Linked DNA regions of Homo sapiens. Each later gene encodes a partner of the first gene's protein in a complex. Each region holds a gene or a part of one and is shown on either strand. Other genes may lie near its edges. A codon is read from its position in the direction of its gene.

Region 1 (9,674 bases):
TCTGCGCACGGCGCTCAGCAGCACCGGGGCATCAGCAGTCCGAGCTCACAAGAGGCAACAGGCAGGAACTGGCGTTAGACTTACACCCGGGTCCACTCAGCAGGCGGGTCCCGGGGACCCTTCGGCCTCCCAATGCGCAGGTTGAAACCTGGGAGAAGAAGGGTGCCGTGGGTCTCATGGAGAAGCTGAGGTGTGTGGAAGCTGGCAGACATGAAGAAGGCCATCCCCCCGCCTCCAGGTCCTCCTGGTTCACTGCAGCCACATCCACAGGACTAAGCTCCATGCCCCATCAACCCCAGACTCCTGGGTTCACTCAAAGCAGCAAAGTCCCAGCAACCCAGGCTCTACCTGACTTACCTAGCCCACCGGTCTGAGCTCCACCCGCCACGTCCTCGTAGGCGCCAGATCCGGCAGGACTTTGGTCAGCAGGAACTGAGGGCAGCAGACCCCCCACGGGTCAGCTCCGGAAGCCCCAGGGAGTCCCAAGACCCCACCCCTAGCGGGGACGCTTCCCCGGAGGCCCGAAGGGGAGAGCCGAGGGCGCCGGGCGGGAGAAGGCACACACCCCGGACGTGGCCTCCAGCCTTTGGGCGCGGCCAAGACAAGTATTGCCAGGAACCCTGCCCCTGGACCGCGACTGCGACCGCCAGGGGGCGCTTCCGGGGCGTGGCCAGGGACGCCTGGACATCAGCGTCGGGGCGTGGCCAGGCTAGCGGCTGGGGTCCCCGCGGCCGCCAGGGCCTGACGGACCACTGCAGGATGGTTCCGCCCTGCGGATCACAGCAGGATGATGCCCTGAGAAGGAGCAAGCCTCGACTCACCGCGGCCAGGCAGCGTCCCCCTCGCGTCCTCCGCGTGCGCCCCGGGTCGCTGGGCGCGCGGCGTCACCTTGCTGTAGAGCGGCGCCTCCTCCGCGCTGCGCGCCCCCGTCCCCGTCCCCGTCCCCGTCTGCGTCCCACTCCCGGCGCCCGCTGGAGCCCCGCGCTTCTGCACCACCGCGTAGGTGTCAGCCATGGCGTGGCCCGGGGACCCGGGCACAGAGATGCTCCTGCAGGCAGGGAGGGCCGGGAGGAAGTGAAACGGCGGCGCTGGGCAGGGCGGGAGTGGGGAGGCTGCTCAGCGCGCAAACCACGGGCTTCCTTCCCGCCGAGGCGGTGCGCTAGATGGGAGGGAGGGCTCCTTGGGTTGGAGGCCTCGCTTCTGTGTCCCTAGCGCCCTGCAAGTTAGGGGGATGAAGGAGGAACGGGGTCAGCCTGGAGGGTAATTTGGGGCAGAGTGTTGGTTTGAGGGGTGGTCATTTCTGTGTCAACGTCTACTGAACAAAAGAATGCGGAAGTGGCATAGAAGACAGGAAGGGATGGCCGCAAGGACAAGGGCCTTAAGTCTCCGCTGCGAAGGCGGCTCAATCCCATGTCCGCAGCACCCAACGTGCGGCCTGACAAGAAGGCGGCGTCTAGAATTATTTGCTGAATTTTTTTTGTTGTTTTTTTGAGACAGGATCTCGCTCTGTCGCCCAGGCTGGACTGCCGTGGTGCGATCTCGGCTTACTGCAACCTCCACCTCCCGGGCTCAAGCGACTCTCCTGCCTCAGCCTCCGGAGTAGCTGGGATTACAGGCTCTCACCAGCACGCCTGGCTAATTTTTGTATTTTTAGTAGAGACAGGGTTTCACCATGTTAACCAGGCTGGTCTCCAGCTGGGCTCAAGTGATCCGCCCTCCTTGGCCTCCCGAAGTGCTGGGATTACAGGGGTGAGCCACCTGAATTAAGGTTTGATTAGAGGATCCAGGAAAGGCCTAACTCAGAAGGCAGGGCAAGCCTTAGAGGCAGAGGCAAGGGGTAAATGAATCATCTTGGGATAATTGAATCATCTTGGGGTGGGTTCCCAGAGCTCAATTCGAAGAAAGGGCCAGCGAACACTTGGCGAAGTGAACAAGGAACGGACTGGTGTTCCAAGGATGAAGAAGGGGTTAGCCTGAGAAATTGGGCAGGGAAGAATCCGGGGATGGAGCCGGGTACCTGAGGACCCCTCCTGGTGGGCGGGGTATGGCGAGAAGTGCCTGGGGAGTCCGGAGGAAGAGGGCATCGTCGTAGAGTGGGGCACAATTCTGAAGAAAAACAGGAGGGGAGGCTCCTGAGGGAGGAAGCTGGCCAGGCCTCTCAAGGGGCTCTGGGAGAAAGCTTAAGATGGGAGAGCCTGATAAGGATGCCTGGAGGAGGGCACAGGTGGATGTCATAGTCAGTGCCTGCTCCCAGTAGTCCCGGGGGCTGGACCCTGCTCGGGGTCCTGGTCTCTGAGGGTGCTGATGGTGGACAGGAGAGTGGGAAAGGAGCCTCTGTACCTCTTTGATGTTCTGGTAGTGGGGGCTGGCATTCTGGAGTGTGGAGCAGAACATCTGAGCCACCGTGTGGTACAGGAACCTGTACTGCTCCTGTTGGGGTGAGGGACCATCAAGAAGGGAAGGCAGGGGCAAATGACAGCAGTGGGCCACTGTCCCTGAAGATTAGGAGACCCAGGGTTCACCTCTGTCTGCACGGCCGCAGGCCGCTGCTTCCTCATCTTAAGGACCACATCAAAGAGACTGAAGTCAGGTGGGATCATCTGGGGCAGACAGACAAGGCACTTGAGCAGGACACGTGGTCATGGGCAGCACACTGCACACACAGGATGCCTGTATCGTACCTGGGTCAGGAGCAGCTGCCTCACATAATCCACGGTGCACAGGACGCCTGTTCGCCCACAACCCGCACTGACAAGAGAATCAGAGTGTGCCTGGTCAGGTCCTGACCACAACCCCTTTTAGATGGGGCATTTGGGGATGGGGGTGAGGGTCCTGATGGATCCCCTGCAGAGCCTCTTGATTCCCAGAATCTTCAGATTATATCTGAACAAGGAAAACCTTTTTAATCACTTACATTTTGTTGAGCAAGAGCTGTGTGCTTATTCCCCAGCTGAGTCTGTGCTGAACAAGTGCTCACAATTACAGTCCATGGAGGGTGAGCAAGGGTTCTCAAAATAGGCACTCAGACTACAAGACTAGCCCCATGCCCTGTACTCCCCTCCATGCTCTGTCCCCTCTGCCTCACCAGACCCTCCTGAAGCCCATTTCCAAAACCTGCAGTGGACACAGAGGGGTTCAGGGCCAGATCCCTGGAGGCGACGGGCTTCCTCCACCATGGCGAGCATGTGGTCAGGACTGCTGGGGACCCCACGGTCTGGCCAGGACATATACTGTAGCTGGTACACAGAACGGGACTCCTGAAACACAGAAAAAGATGAGCAAAAGACTTAGGAAAAAAAAGAAAAAAGCATTAATTGGCCATCTACTATACACCAGGCCCACTTCTAGGCATCTTCCATTTATGTCTACCAGACAATAACTGAGGAAGTGGGTACTAGTATGATGCCCATTTTTACAGGAGAGGAAACCTCTCCCCTTTCAGGAGCCCCTTTACCTCCTCCTCCCCTGTCACAGTACCTTCTGGAATGTGACCTTGAGGGTCCTGAGCATGATGTCCTCATTCAGCCACTTCTCCTTTATCTGAGTAAGGGGGGTGGGGCAAGTAAGAAGAGGGAGGAGAACAAAGATCATAGGTACCAGAAGACATTTATAGAAAGCAAAGCATTCCTGATTAAAAAATCAAATACAGAAAACATTTTAAAAATTCATATAGCCCAAACTTTCCCCAAAGCTTTCATTAAGGAAACATTTGACACAGGAGCAAAAGAGGAACTATTATAAAAACACAAGCCCTTTTGCAATGAAAAGAGATGTCTTTTGTTCTAAAATGAAACTTTTATTGCATTTATTAAGTACTAACTGTATGTATGACTTGAGAGAGTTCCCCAAGCTCTTTTGAAATGGTAAGAGAAGTAAGAATTTCAACAACCTAACCAGGCACATTTACATGACAGAGATTAACTGATTGTAGCCAAAATAAAAATGCAAAGGCTATCCCTATAGTAAGTTCTAACTATTTGCAGGCTAACACCAGAGGGTTTCCTGCAGTATGAGTGGACTGTGGGTTAAATCATTCAACCTTTTAGGCCCAACCCAAAGCCTTTCCACCCTGGGAATCTTCCTTGAAAACTCCCACAGCTCACCAGAGTGATGCAGAAAAGCCCAGTCTGCAGTGGCTCCTGCTCCTGGGCCCAGTACCGCTCACACCTTTTCTGCAAAAGGTAAGGGAGAAAAGGCAGGGAGTGAGAAGAGGGAGTCAGCTTCAGAGCTAGCTCAATCATGCCACAAGACACCCCAGGTGCTCGTGGTGGAAGCACAGGCAGCTATACTTATAACCTATAACAGACGCCAGCCAACAGAGCCATCAGATTAAACACATGCAGACTCAATGGAGGTGCGCTGCTGACCATGCAGGGGAAATACAGTCCAGGATACCCTCCCACTGTAAGCAACTAGAAACTGGACAAAATACATGAGCCACTATTTTCAGACACTGGTTGGCAGGTGTTGCAGTACTGTGGTCACTGAACAGACCACTCCGGCTTATTGCATGGAAGTGTCACCAGGCTGTAAGACATGAGTCTAATGATCCCACTGAGTTGAGCCAGAGACCATGGCTCAAGGAGGCAAAAGCAGCTAGAATTTGCAGGGCAGAGTCCTGGAAGGAACAGAGGTATGCAAATAAAAACAAAACAATAACTTGCATAGAAGTCCCCTCCTTGATTCTTTGGTTGAATAATCTGAATATATACAACATGAAACCCCATGAGGCCAGGCAAGAATAACTTACCATGAAAGAATAGTAGGGATCTGTAGGATGAACATTTCCTTGAGCTCATGATGAGAAAGAATTCACATTCCCTCTAGCTAGAGTGTAGAGGCATTATCAACTATAAGGGGCATTTAGTAGGGAACCTAGAATGACCACACATTAGAAGTACGGCTAAATTAATTCTAGAACAAAGGCTACTTGATCAACCATCCAAAAGTTCCTGAAAAGGCAAAACACTCTAAAGAAAACAATCCAACACTTACCTGTGCAAAATTCAAAATATCAAGCATCCAATAAAATTTTGCTGGACATACAAAGAAGCAGGAAAGTGTGACCCATAACCAGGAGAAAAATTAGTCAATAGGAAAGGGCCCAGAAATAACAGTTCAGGAAAGAAGCAAAAATCTTAAAATGGCTATTACAAATACACTCAAAGATGAAAAGGAAAACATGAACATGATGCAGAGTGGAATGAAAGATACAAAAAATAACCTGAATGGAATTTATAAAGAGGAAAAATAAAATATATGAAATGAAAAATCCACTAATAGCAGGGTAGACACTAGAAGAAAGGATCAATAGACATGAAAACATAGCAATATAAATAATTCAAAATGAAATGAAAAAAATGAAAAAGAATCAGTTCTCTGTAGAAATATACCAGTCTAGTGTATGTGCACGTGGAGTCCAGAAGGAAAGGAGAAAGGGGGATAACAGAAACTTTATGTAAAGAAATAATAGGTGAAAATTTTCCCAAATTCGATGAAACTATGAACCCACAAATCCAAGAAAGTCAATGAACCAGAGGGAGAATAAACCTAAACCTAAAGAAAGTCACGCCAAGGCAGATCATGATCAAATTACTGAAAAAGAATGAAGAAGAGAAAAAAAAATTTTTTTTTGAGACCCTTGCTCTGTCACCCAGGCTTGGCGTGCAGTGGCTCAATCTCGGCTCACTGCAACCTGCAACTCCCAGGTTCAAGCGATTCTCCTGCCTCAGGCTCCTGAGTAGCTGGGATTACAGACACACACCACCATGTCCAACCTTTTTTTGTATTTTTAGTAGAGACAGGGTTTCACCAGGTTGGCCGGGCTGGTCTCGAACTCCTGACCTCAAGTGATACACCTACCTTGGCCTCCCAAAGTGCTGGGATTACAGGCATGAGCCACCACACCAGGCCCCAGAAGAGAAAATCTTAAAAGCATTATGCACAAAAGGACACATCACATACTGAGGAACAAAGTTAAGAATTATAGCAACATTTTGTCAGAAACGGCAAGTCAATGCTATGATATCCTAAAAATGCTGAAAACCTTTTCAGACAAATGAAAGCTGAGGGAATTCATCACAAACAAATCTGCATTATGAGAAATATTAGAGTAAGCTCTTCAGATGCTTACAGACAGTGGCTGCTCCAGCTATTTGAGAGGCTAAGGCAGGAGGATTGCTTGAGGCCACTTCAACACCAGCCTGAGCAACATAGCCTGTATCTTAAAAAAAAAAAAAAAAAAAAAAAAAAAATTAAAATTAGCTAGGTGTGTTGGCAACATAGCTAGCCTGTATCTAAAAAAAATCTTTTTTAGTTAGCTGAGTGCAGTGGCACACCTGTACTCCCAACTACTTGGCAGGCTGAGGTGGGAGGATTGCTTAAGCCCAGGAGTTTGAGGCTGCAGTGAGTGGTGACTGCACACTGCACTCCAGCCTGTATGACAGAGTGAGACCCTATCTCTTAAATAAATAGAATAAGTAAGCTCTGCATACAAAAGGAACGTGATACAAATGGAAATACAGATCTACACAAAATAACAGGGAGAAAAGTAAGTGGCTAAATGTAAAAGATATTTCATTTTAAACATCTTTAAAAGATAATCTAGTGAATTTTATCAAACAAAGAGGAATTAATACCAGCCTTTCACAAACTCTTGCAAAAAACTGAGAGGAACCATTTCCCAACATATTGTATGAGGCTAGTATTACCCTGGCACCAAAACCAAAGACATCACAAGAAAAGAAAACTACTAACCAATATCTCACAAACATAGACACAAAAATTCTCAATGAAGTACTAGCAAAGTATTAAACACCATGACTAAGTGGGATTAATTCCAGGAATGCAAGATTGGTTCAACATATGAAAGTCAATGTCATACACCATATTAGTAGAATACAAAACACACGATCATCTGAATAGATGCAAAGAACAAAATTTGACAAAACTCAACAGCGTTTCATAAAAAAGTTCATTAGAAACTCAGTGCCCAGGATTTTTATTGGGGCACCGTCTGCACAGAATGTAGGCACACTCTGCCTAGCCTGTACCAAAATGTCAGACTACCAGCAGGAGAACAGGTGTTCTGCATAAAGCATATTGTTTGTATTAACAGTTCAGGCATAGTGAGCCACTGTTATCAGAAACCTAGGTTTCTAGAGGCCACCCAAGAGTCAACCTTACAGGAAGGCCTTTCTAAGCATAAACATTTATGCTTGCCATGTTTAACTCTTCTGCACAGCAGGGGACCTACCCAAAATAGCCAAAACAATCTTGGAAAAAAGAACAAATTTGGAAGACTCATACTTCCTGATTTCAGAACTTCTACAAAGGTATAATAATCAAAACTATGTTACACTGGCACAAGGATAAACACATCAATCAGCTTAATAAAATTGAGAGTTCAGAAATAAACCCTTATATTTATGGCCAATTAATTTTCAACAAAGGGGCCAAGACGGTTCAATGGGCAAAGCATAGTCTTTTCAACAAATGGTGCTGGAACAACTGGATAGTCACATGCAAAAGAGTGAATGTGGACCCCTATCTCACATCACATACAAAAGTTCATTCAAAGTAAATCTGAGACCTAACTGTAAGCAAGAAAACTATAAAACACTTAGAAGGAAGAACAGGAGTAAGTCTTTATGACCTCTGATTAGACAATGACTTCTCAGATACACCAAAAGCACAGCAACACAATAGATTGGAATTAAAGTTTCACAAAATGTTTGTGCTTCAAAACACACCATCAAGAAAGTGGAATGACAACCCACAGAATGGGAAAGACATTTTAAATCATGTACTGATAAGGGACTTATATACAGAATAACGCTTACAACTCAATAATAAAAAGACAACCCCAAATAGCCCAATTTTAAAATGAATAAATGACATGAATAGACATTTGGCCAGAGAAGATATACAAATGGACGAATAAGCACATGAAAACCAAAACCACAATGAGGTACCACTTCCCACTCATTAGGATGGCATATATGTCATTGTCATATGCCACATAATGATGTTTTGGTTAACAACAGACCACATATACAATGGTGGTGCCATAGATTATAATGGAGCATATGTAGAAACCTGATACATGGCACTTGATATTGACACTGCATATTAAGTTGGGGAAATGATTGATACTCAGTAATGGTGCTGGGACATTTGGTTTTCCATATGAAAAATATATAAATAAAAAATGTATATACTATCTATGTTTGTGTAAGTATACTCTATGATGTTTACACAATGACAAGATAGTCTTAACAATGCAGACCATATCCCTGTCATTAAACTACACATGTCCCTCCCTCCCTCTCTCTCTCTCTGCTGATGGGAACGTAAAATGGTACAGCCACTGTGGAAAACAAAATGTTGAACATAGCGTTATCATATGATCCAGCAATTCCATGCTAGGTGTATACCCAGGGAACTGAAAACAGGGATTCAAACAGATACTAGTATACCAATTTTTTGTTGTTGTTGTTGTTGTTGTTTTGAGACGGAGTCTCGCTCTGTCGCCCAGGCTGGAGTGCGGTGGTGCGATCTCGGCTCACTGCAAGCTCCGCCTCATGGGTTCACACCATTCTCTTGCCTCAGCCTCCCGAGTAGCTGGGACTACAGGCGGCTGCCACCACGCCTGGCTAATTTTTTGTATTTTTAGTAGAGGTGGGATTTCATCGTGTTAGCCAGGCTGGTCTCGATCTCCTGACCTCGTGATCTGCCTGCTTCGGCCTCCCAAAGTGCTGGGATTACAGGCGTGAGCCACTGTGTCCAGCCTGTATACCAATGTTTGTAGCCGCCTTATTTACAATAGTCAAAAGGTACAAACAACCCAGATGTCCAACAGGCGAATGGATAAACAAAATGTGATATATACATACAATGAAATATTATTTGGCCTTGAAAACAGTGAAATTCTGATACACACTGCAACATGGATGAACCTTGAAAAAAGGACAAGTATTGTATATTAGTGTATTCCTGATTCCACTTGCATGAGGTACCTAGAATAGGCAAATTCATAGGGACAGAAAGGAGAATAGAGGTTACCTGGAAATGGGGGAATGGGGAGTTATTGTTTAATGAATACAGAATTTCTGTTTGGGATGATGAACATGTTCTGAAAATAGACAGTAGGAATGGTTAATCCATTGTGAATGTACTTAATTCAATTGAATTGTACACTTGAAATGGTTTAAATGGCAAAATTATTTTTAACATTCCTCACAGCACCTATAAACTGGCAAATTTTATGTTATGTATATTTTACCACATAATTTAAAGAAAGACACAATGGCATACCACTTCACAACCCCTAGGATGGCTATAATTAAAAAAAAAAAAAAGACAGTAACAAGCATCAGGGAGAAGAAATGGGGACCCTCAAACATTGCCGTGGAAATGTAAAATGATGCTGCCACTGTGGAAAACAGTTTGGCACTTCCTCAAAATGTTAAAAATAGAGTTTCCATATAGCCCAGCAATTCCCAGCAATACCCAAGAGACATGAAAACCCACATCTACACAGAGACTTGTATATCAGTGTTGATAGCAGCACTGTTCATAATAGCCAAAAAGTAGAAAGAACCCAATTTCTGTCAACCAATAAGTAAAATGTGGTAGATCCATTCAATGGAATAGTATTCAGCAAACAAAACAAA
Region 2 (9,674 bases), on another chromosome or scaffold:
AGAAAGAGGGGGCCTGATGGGGAGGAGTCCCAGGGAGGAGTCCCTGTGGGAAGCTTTGGGCCTGAGGGAGTACTCCTGTAGCAGTAACCTTTCCATGAAAGTCTGCAGAGTGTGCTGGGGATGGAGGAAGATGAGAATAGCCTTTGCTGACCGGGAAGGGGTCCGTGGTAAGGTGCCCACCTTTCTCCCATAGTGGCGCCTACTCGCTGACCCTGCAAGGGCTGGGCATCAGCTGGCTGGGGCTGCGCTCACTGAGGGAACTGGGCAGTGGACTGGCCCTCATCCACCATAACACCCACCTCTGCTTCGTGCACACGGTGCCCTGGGACCAGCTCTTTCGGAACCCGCACCAAGCTCTGCTCCACACTGCCAACCGGCCAGAGGACGAGTGTGGTAAGACAGGGAGCCCAGTGTGCGCACTCCCCATCTGCCAGCACACAGCAGTGCCCAGGGGGCCCTGGCAGCAGCGTTCTTGGACTTGTGCAGACTGCCCGTCTCTGTGCACCCTTCTTGACTCAGCACAGCTCTGGCTGGCTTGGCCTCTTGGCATGGCTTCTCTAGCTGGGTCCTACCTGCCTTGGCATCCTTCCCTCCCCCTCTGTTTCTGAAATCTCAGAACTCTTCCTCTCCCTACATCGGCCCCACCTGTCCCCACCCCTCCAGCCCACAGCCATGCCCACAGCCAGTTCCCTGGTTCACTTGGACCTGGGGCCTCCCCTAAAAGTCCCCTGCGGTCCCTTCCTCCTCACTGCAGTGGGCGAGGGCCTGGCCTGCCACCAGCTGTGCGCCCGAGGGCACTGCTGGGGTCCAGGGCCCACCCAGTGTGTCAACTGCAGCCAGTTCCTTCGGGGCCAGGAGTGCGTGGAGGAATGCCGAGTACTGCAGGGGTATGAGGGGCGGAGGAGAGGGTGGCTGGAGGGGTGCATGGGGCTCCTCTCAGACCCCCTCACCACTGTCCCTTCTCTCAGGCTCCCCAGGGAGTATGTGAATGCCAGGCACTGTTTGCCGTGCCACCCTGAGTGTCAGCCCCAGAATGGCTCAGTGACCTGTTTTGGACCGGTGAGCTGCTGGCGGGCTCAGAGCTGGGTGGAGGGGGGCAGCGAGGGGGATTGCCAGGGACTTGGCAGGATGGCGAGATGCAGTAGGGTGTGCTATCTGGTAAAATATCCCTGGAGAGGGCTCAGCGCTCAGACCTGAACAGCAACAGAGTGGCAGAAAAGGGGCCTGGGGGACACTGGGGCCCTTCAGACTATGAAAAGGTTCTAAGGAGGTCTGTGTTGGTGGCTGTGACTGTGGCTGTGCTAGGGTGGTGAGCCCTGTGGGCTCAGGCGTCAGACTACCTGGATTCAGACCCAGCTCCTGCTTCCAACCTTGGTTTTTTATTCCTAAAATGGGTATTGTAATAATACCTACCTTGCTGGGGTGTGGCAAGAATGAAATTAAACAGGGCTTGGCACAGTGAAGCACGGGAAAGGCTTTCTACAGAGCAGTGACTGTTGTTACTCGCTGTTACACCTTAGGTAATGCGTTTTCCTCTCTGGGTGCCTCCCATTTTCTGGCTCAAGTCCCTGCCCAGGATCAAGCTTGGAGGAGGGCCCCGAGGGAGGGGCCACAGAGACTGGGTGAAGAGCAAGGGTGTTTGTCCCAGGAGCATGGCGAAAATTGCTGCTGGGTGGCCTTGGGAAGCACAAAGGGGACCCAACTAAGGGCCTGATCCTACTGCCCTGGGGGTGTCAGTGCCAGCCCCCCACAAATCTTTTCTGCCCCCCCCAGGAGGCTGACCAGTGTGTGGCCTGTGCCCACTATAAGGACCCTCCCTTCTGCGTGGCCCGCTGCCCCAGCGGTGTGAAACCTGACCTCTCCTACATGCCCATCTGGAAGTTTCCAGATGAGGAGGGCGCATGCCAGCCTTGCCCCATCAACTGCACCCACTCGTGAGTCCAACGGTCTTTTCTGCAGAAAGGAGGACTTTCCTTTCAGGGGTCTTTCTGGGGCTCTTACTATAAAAGGGGACCAACTCTCCCTTTGTCATATCTTGTTTCTGATGACAAAAATAACACATTGTTAAAATTGTAAAATTAAAACATGAAATATAAATTAATGCCCTAGCAGTTCTATCCCCACTGTTAATAATTTGAAATATTTTTCCTCTAGTTATTTTTGTCTGTGCACATTCTAATATGTATATATAAGTTAACATATATTAATATTATTCTCCAGTTATTTTTATCTGTGCACATTTTAACACACACACACACACACACACACACACACATATGTATTTTTAGACGGAGTTTCACTCTGTCGCCCAGGCTGGAGTGCAGTAGTACAATCTTGGCTCACTGCAGCCTCCACCTCCTGGGTTTAAGCAATTCTCCTGCTTCCGCCTCCTGAGTAGCTGGGATTACGGGAACGTGCTACCTTGCCTGGCTAATTTTTGTATTTTTAGTACATAGGATTTCACCATGTTGGCCAGGCTGGTCTCGAACCCCTGACCTCAGGTGATCTGCCAGCCTCGGTCCCCCAAAGTGTTGGGATTACAGCGGTGAGCCACCATGCCCAGTCATATATTTCTTTTTAACAAATAGAATCATAGATCATACATATTGTTTGCAAATTGCTTTTTCTCACTTTCCAGAACCTTGAAATGTTTTTCCATGTTCTAACATGGTGATCTACCTTATTCTTTTAATTTTTCTTATTTAGTTGTCTTTACACATGAAACACATGAATACATCCTTGTGATAAACATTTTCAGTAACATAAAAGTATAAATGTTACAAAGCCAACGTGCCCTTTCACTCAACTCCCTGTCCACCCAGTCTCTCCTGTCTGCTGGGAGAACCACCGCATTGACTTGTGTGTTCACCCTTCCAGGCTCTTTTCTGCACACTTATATAGACATACTACATTTATATTAGGTCGAGTCAAATAAGATTGCTGTTTGTGTAAACCAAAAAGTGTCAAGAGCCTGGGCGCAGTGACTCACACCTGTAATCCCAGCACTTTGGGAGGCTGAGGCAGGCAGATCACTTGAGATCAGGAGTTCGAGACCAATCTGGCCAACATAGCGAGACCCCGTCTCTACTAAAAATACAAAAACTAGCCAGGTGTGGTGATGCTGTTCTGCACTTTGCTTTCCCCCCGACTTGAGGTATCCTTTCTTGTGAGTACAGACGGATCTACCACCTTTATTTTTTTTTTAATTACTCAACCTGTAACATGGATGTAATTTCACTTTGTTTTTGAGGGATATTGAGCTTGTTTCCCTGTTTTTGCAGTTTATTGCAATTGAGCTCCACACACAAGTGAGCCCTCTTTTGTATGCCCCCTAGTGGGAATACAGTGCTGGCAATGTTTATCACAAGGATATATTCATGCATTTCAATTTAAAGACAACTAAATGAGAAAAATTAAAAGAATATGGATCCAGGCTGGGCATGGTGGCTCACGCCTGTAATCCCAGCACTTTGGGAGGCCGAGGCAGGCAGATCACCTGAGGTCAGGAGTTCAAGACCAGCCTGGCCAACATGGCAAAACCCCGTCTCTACTAAAAATACAAAAATTAGCCAGGCGTGGTGGTGGGCGCCTGTAATCCCAGCTATTTGAGAGGTTGAGACAGGAGAATTGCTTGAACCTGGGCAGCGGAGGTTGCAGTGAGACGAGATTGCACCAGTGCACTCCAACCTGGGCAACACAGTGCAACTCCTTCTCAAGAAAAAAAAGAAAAAAAAAAAGAATATGGGTCCAGATCCATATGGATCCTAGATCCAGATCACGGTGTTAGAACATGGAAAAACATTGCAAGATTCTGCTAAGTGAAAAAAGCATTTGCAAACAGTATGTACAGTCTATATTCAGAGGAGGAACTGCTGGGTCATAGATGATATTTCATAGGTATTGCCAAACCGTTCTCTGGAGAAGTGGTATGGGTTTACCCTGGGATTCTTCTATGGAGGGAATAGTTGAGCTCCCGGGCTTGCTCTTCTGGGTGCCCCTCCCCGCTTCCTATCCACCACAAGGAGCTGCAGGGGAGCGGGGCATGCCGGTTCCTTGGCTGGAGAAGGAGTCTCCTTGTGAGGTGGTAGAAGGAGCACTGACGGCCTTGAGCCCAGTTTCTGCCTTTGTCAAATGGGGATAATGACCCAGCCACACCCCTCCCAGGGTTGTTGTGAGGCTGGAAAGGTGGTTCCCAAGAGGGTGGTTCCCAGAATTGTTGATGAGACTGTTTCTCCTGCAGCTGTGTGGACCTGGATGACAAGGGCTGCCCCGCCGAGCAGAGAGCCAGGTTGGCCTGGACCCCAGGATGTACCCTTCATTGCCCTTCACTCCCCCACTGGATGCTGGGTGGTCACTGCTGTAGGGAGGGGACCCCCTGACATATGTCCCTTCCCACCCACTCTTCCACTGTGGAACCTCCTGTCATTTTCCACTTCACCAAGTGACAGAGGACCTGCTCAGATGCTGAGGGGAGGGGACTGCAAGGAAAGATGGCTAGGAAACCCAGTCCCTCCACACCCTAGAGTAACTTGATGCCTTGTGAGGGACACAGGCAAAGTTCAATTCCTTGGAAGTCAAGGGAGACTGAGAAGAGTACAGCTGCAGCACTGAGGGAGTGATGAATTCTTAACTGGGGATGGTGGGAGGCTTCGAGTGGGAGGTGGCATTTGAGCTAGGCTTTGAGAGAGGAGCAGGTATTGCACTTGCATTTAGGTAGAAAGCATTGGGGTGCAAGGTGACACTGGAGGGGGAGGCATCAGGAAATCCAGGATGTCTTCAAAGTTCTGGTGTCGGGGGCTGTTGAGTAAGCACAGGAATAAGGGGGTCAAGTTAGAGTCAGGGTGGGGTCTGACCTGGATGCCATAGGACCTGATCCCCAAGCCACAGGGTGGGACTTGACTGGGCAGTGGGGACCTTTGGAAAGGACTTTGGGGAGAAAAACAGACTGGAGTCTGTCTTAGGCGATCATCGGTCCGTGAAATGAGCATGTGTTACAGGCTTGGTATGTACCAGACCCTGTGCTAAGCAAGGGGGTATGGAGAGGAGAGGGTGACAAGAATATTGGATCAACACCCGGGAGCTCCATCTATCCCAGGATGCACTATCTTTTTTTTATTTTTTTGAGACGGAGTCTCACTCTGCCTGCAGGCTGGAGTGCAGTGGCTCCATCTCGGTTCACTGCAACCTCTGCCTCCTGGGTTCAAGCGCTTCTTGTGCCTCAGCCTCCCAAGTAGCTGGGATTACAGGCACATGCCACCACACCCAGCTAATTTTTGTATTTTTAGTAGAGACGGGGTTTCACCATGTTGGCCAGGATGGTCTCGATCTCTTGACCTCAAGATCCGCCCACCTTGGCCTCCCAAAGTGCTGGGATTACAGACATGAGCCACCGTGCCCAGCCAGATACGCTATCTTTTTATTGAGTGATTGAGACAGGGTCTTGCTCTCTTGTCCAGTCTTGAATGTGGTGGTGTAATCACAGGCTCACTGCAGCCTTGACCTCCTGGGCTCAAGTTACCCTTCTGCAGTAGCTGGGACTATAGGAGCGTGCCACCACGCCTGGGTAATTTAAAAAATTTTTTTTGTATAGACAGGGTCTCACTATGTTGCCCGAGCTGGTCTCAAACTCGTGGGCTCAAGTGATCCTCCAGTTTTGGCCTCCCAAAATGTTGGGATCACAGGAGTGAGCCACCACTCCTGGCGATGAGCCAAGTCTTTTTTTTTTTTTTTTTTTTTTGATATGGAGTCTTGCTCTGTTGCCCAGGCTGGAGTGCAATGACACGATCTTGGCTCACTGCAACCTCTGCCTCCCAGGTTCAAGCAGTTCAAGCAATCCTCCTGTCTCAGCCCCCCAGTAGCTGGGATTACAGGCATGCGCTACCACGTCCGGCTAATTTTTGTATTTTTAGTAGAGATGAGGTTTTGCCATGTTGGCCAGGCTGGTCTTGAACTGCTGACCTCAGGTGATCCACCTGCCTCGGCCTCCCAAAGTGCTGGGATTACAGGTGTGAGCCATCGTGCCTGGCGGAGCCGAGTCTTAAAAGATGACCCTGTGGAGAAATGGTGGTCCAGGCTGAAGGGACAGCCTATGCAAACACTGGGAGGTGTGGAAAATCATGACCTGTGGGTGGAAATTTTGGCTAGAACATCAAAATCATCAGGTGTACATTCCTGTACCCATGCAGCAGTCAGAATCTCTGGGGGTGGGGCCCCAAAATTGTATGCATACAGACTGTGTGCTGATTTGTGATATTACTTAGGATTTTTTGACTTTACAATGGTGGAAAAGCAATAATATACATTCAGTATAAACCGTACTTTGAATACCCATACAGCCATTCTGTTTTTCACTTTTATTTTTATTTATTTATTTATTTATTATTTATTTTGAGATGTCATTTTGCTGTTGTTACCCAGGCTGGAGTGCAATGGCGCAGTCTTGGCTCACCGCAACCTCCACCTCTCAGGTTCAAACGATTCTCCTGCTTCAGCCTCCAGAGTGGCTGGGATTACAGGCAGGCACCACCACACCCGGCTAATTTTGTATTTTTAGTAGAGACGGGGTTTCTCCATGTTAGTCAGGCTGGTCTCGAACTCGAGAGCTCAGGTGATCTGCCCATCTCAGCCTCAAGCCACCATGCCCAGCCCTACTTTCAGTATTCAATAAATTACATAGCCAGGCACCGTGGCTCACACCTGTAATCCCAGCACTTTAGGAGGCCAAGGTGGGAGGATCCTTTGAGGCCAGAAGCTCGAGACCAGCCTGGGCAACATAGTGAGACCCCATTTCTACAAAAAATAAAAAAACTAGCTGAGTGTGGTGGCGTGTGTCTGTAGTCCCAGCTACTTGGGCAGCTGAGGTGGAAAGACTGCTTGAGCCCAGAGGTCAGGGCTGCAGTGGGCCATGATCTCACCACTGCACTCAGCCTGGGCAACACAGCAAGGCCCTGTCTCAAAAATAAATAAATAAATAACACAAACTTATTTAACAGTTTACTATAAAATAGGCTTTGTGTCAGATGATTCTGCCCAACTGTAAGCTGCTGGCAGTGTAAATGTTCTGAGCACGTGTAAGCCAGGCTAGGTGTCTTAAATGCATTTTCAGTTTCAACTTAGAATTGGTTTATCAGGACGTAGCCCCTTGGTGTTGAGGGGCATGTGTATTAACAGTCTCCTTAGTGACTTTTTTTTTTTTGAGATGGAGTCTTGCACTGGCCGTAGTGCAGTGGCACAATCTCAGCTCACTGCAACCTCTTGTCTCCCGGGTTCAAGCGATTCTCCTGCCTCAGTCTCCCAAGTAGCTGGGATTACAGGCACCCACACCACGCCCAGCTAATTTTTGTGTGTGTGTATTTTTAGTAGAGACGGGGGTTTCACTATGTTGGCCAGGCTGGTCTCGAACTCCTGACCTTGTGATCTGCCCACCTCAGACTCTCAAAGTGCTAGGATTCCAGGCATGAGCCACCGCGCCCAGAGTCCTTAGTGATTTTTACACCATGAATTGTTGAAGCCCTAAGCCAGAGCCAAGGGCAAGAGTATAGAGAATCTGGAGATGCGGAGAGGGTTCTGATTGCCTACAAGGAGTTTGGACTTTATTGTGGAGGCAGCGGGGAGCCAAGGCAGGTTTTAGAGTAGGAGAGGGTCCAAGCCTGTGGGTCACCCTTCCGACTTCCCTTTCCGAATGCCAAACACCTTCATGTCCCCCGTGGGCCCCCTTTGTCCCTCCCACCCCAAACTAGCCCTCAATCCCTGACCCTGGCTTCCGCCCCCAGCCCTCTGACGTCCATCATCTCTGCGGTGGTTGGCATTCTGCTGGTCGTGGTCTTGGGGGTGGTCTTTGGGATCCTCATCAAGCGACGGCAGCAGAAGATCCGGAAGTACACGATGCGGAGACTGCTGCAGGAAACGGAGGTGAGGCGGGGTGAAGTCCTCCCAGCCCGCGTGGGGTCTGCACCGGCCCCCGGCACTGACCCACCACCCCCTCACCCCAGCTGGTGGAGCCGCTGACACCTAGCGGAGCGATGCCCAACCAGGCGCAGATGCGGATCCTGAAAGAGACGGAGCTGAGGAAGGTGAAGGTGCTTGGATCTGGCGCTTTTGGCACAGTCTACAAGGTCAGGGCCAGGTCCTGGGGTGGGCGGCCCCAGAGGATGGGGGCGGTGCCTGGAGGGGTGTGGTCGGCAGTTCTGATGGGAGGGGCAAGAGCTGGAGGCAGTGTTTGGGGGAGGGCAGTTACAGCGGAGAAGGGAGCGGGGCCAAGCCCTAGGGTGGTGAAGGATGTTTGGAGGACAAGTAATGATCTCCTGGAAGGCAGGTAGGATCCAGCCCACGCTCTTCTCACTCATATCCTCCTCTTTCTGCCCAGGGCATCTGGATCCCTGATGGGGAGAATGTGAAAATTCCAGTGGCCATCAAAGTGTTGAGGGAAAACACATCCCCCAAAGCCAACAAAGAAATCTTAGACGTAAGCCCCTCCACCCTCTCCTGCTAGGAGGACAGGAAGGACCCCATGGCTGCAGGTCTGGGCTCTGGTCTCTCTTCATTGGGGTTTGGGGAGATATGACTCCCGCAAACCTAGACTATTTTTTTGGAGACGGAGTCTTGCTCTGTCACCCAGGCTGGAGTGCAGTGGCGTTATCTCGGCTCACTGCAACCTCCACCTCCTGGACTCAAGCGATTTTCATGCCTCAGGCTCCTGAGTAGCTGGGATTACAAGCGCCCGCTAATTTTTTTTTTTTTTTTGAGACAGAGTCTCGCTCTGTCACCCAGGCTAGAGTGAAATGGTGCGGTCTCAGCTCAGCCTCCCAGGTTAAAGCGATTCTTCTCCCTCAGTCTCCTGAGTAGCTGGGATTACAGGCGCGAGCCACCACGCCCGGCTAATTTTTGTATTTTTAGTAGAGATGGGATTTCACCATGTTGGCCAGGTTGGTGTCAAACTCCTGACCTCATGATCCGCCCGCCTCGGCCTCCCAAAGTGCTGGGATTACAGGTGTGAGCCACCGTGCCCGGCCTAATCTTTGTATTTTTAGTAGAGACAGGGTTTCACCATGTTGTCCAGGCTGGTACTTTGAGCCTTCACAGGCTGTGGGCCATGGCTGTGGTTTGTGATGGTTGGGAGGCTGTGTGGTGTTTGGGGGTGTGTGGTCTCCCATACCCTCTCAGCGTACCCTTGTCCCCAGGAAGCATACGTGATGGCTGGTGTGGGCTCCCCATATGTCTCCCGCCTTCTGGGCATCTGCCTGACATCCACGGTGCAGCTGGTGACACAGCTTATGCCCTATGGCTGCCTCTTAGACCATGTCCGGGAAAACCGCGGACGCCTGGGCTCCCAGGACCTGCTGAACTGGTGTATGCAGATTGCCAAGGTATGCACCTGGGCTCTTTGCAGGTCTCTCCGGAGCAAACCCCTATGTCCACAAGGGGCTAGGATGGGGACTCTTGCTGGGCATGTGGCCAGGCCCAGGCCCTCCCAGAAGGTCTACATGGGTGCTTCCCATTCCAGGGGATGAGCTACCTGGAGGATGTGCGGCTCGTACACAGGGACTTGGCCGCTCGGAACGTGCTGGTCAAGAGTCCCAACCATGTCAAAATTACAGACTTCGGGCTGGCTCGGCTGCTGGACATTGACGAGACAGAGTACCATGCAGATGGGGGCAAGGTTAGGTGAAGGACCA

Evidence for each region.
Region 2: the proteins of PTPN18 (region 1) and ERBB2 are in contact, whole or in part, in a crystal structure (PDB 4NND), measured with the Homo sapiens proteins. Residues at the interface, in NP_055184.2 of Homo sapiens: Arg61, Tyr62, Lys63, Asp64, Val65, Arg138, Asp197 (codon at 3,215), Arg198 (codon at 3,212), Ser230 (codon at 3,116), Ala231 (codon at 2,747), Gly232 (codon at 2,744), Cys233 (codon at 2,741), Gly234 (codon at 2,738), Arg235 (codon at 2,735), Arg268 (codon at 2,555), Ala273 (codon at 2,540), Gln276 (codon at 2,531); in NP_004439.2 of Homo sapiens: Leu1109, Gln1110, Arg1111, Tyr1112, Ser1113, Glu1114.

Annotation. Positions count from the first base shown.
Region 1 is NC_000002.12:130,363,631-130,373,304, reverse strand, and holds part of PTPN18 (tyrosine-protein phosphatase non-receptor type 18), read right to left. Parts: intron 4,173-9,674; coding exon 4,104-4,172; intron 3,541-4,103; coding exon 3,478-3,540; intron 3,258-3,477; coding exon 3,115-3,257; intron 2,749-3,114; coding exon 2,682-2,748; intron 2,601-2,681; coding exon 2,523-2,600; intron 2,431-2,522; coding exon 2,341-2,430; intron 2,107-2,340; coding exon 2,018-2,106; intron 1,049-2,017; coding exon 822-1,048; intron 433-821; coding exon 358-432; intron 149-357; coding exon 81-148; 3' UTR 1-80. UniProt on the Homo sapiens protein: Differentially dephosphorylate autophosphorylated tyrosine kinases which are known to be overexpressed in tumor tissues.
Region 2 is NC_000017.11:39,715,547-39,725,220, forward strand, and holds part of ERBB2 (receptor tyrosine-protein kinase erbB-2 isoform a precursor), read left to right. Parts: intron 1-172; coding exon of another isoform or gene 173-193; coding exon 194-393; intron 394-724; coding exon of another isoform or gene 725-754; coding exon 755-887; intron 888-968; coding exon 969-1,059; intron 1,060-1,520; coding exon of another isoform or gene 1,521-1,622; intron 1,623-1,773; coding exon 1,774-1,934; coding exon of another isoform or gene 1,935-1,938; exon of another isoform or gene 1,939-2,111; intron 2,112-4,240; coding exon 4,241-4,288; intron 4,289-7,772; coding exon 7,773-7,911; intron 7,912-7,991; coding exon 7,992-8,114; intron 8,115-8,365; coding exon 8,366-8,464; intron 8,465-9,179; coding exon 9,180-9,365; intron 9,366-9,502; coding exon 9,503-9,658; intron 9,659-9,674. UniProt on the Homo sapiens protein: Protein tyrosine kinase that is part of several cell surface receptor complexes, but that apparently needs a coreceptor for ligand binding. Essential component of a neuregulin-receptor complex, although neuregulins do not interact with it alone.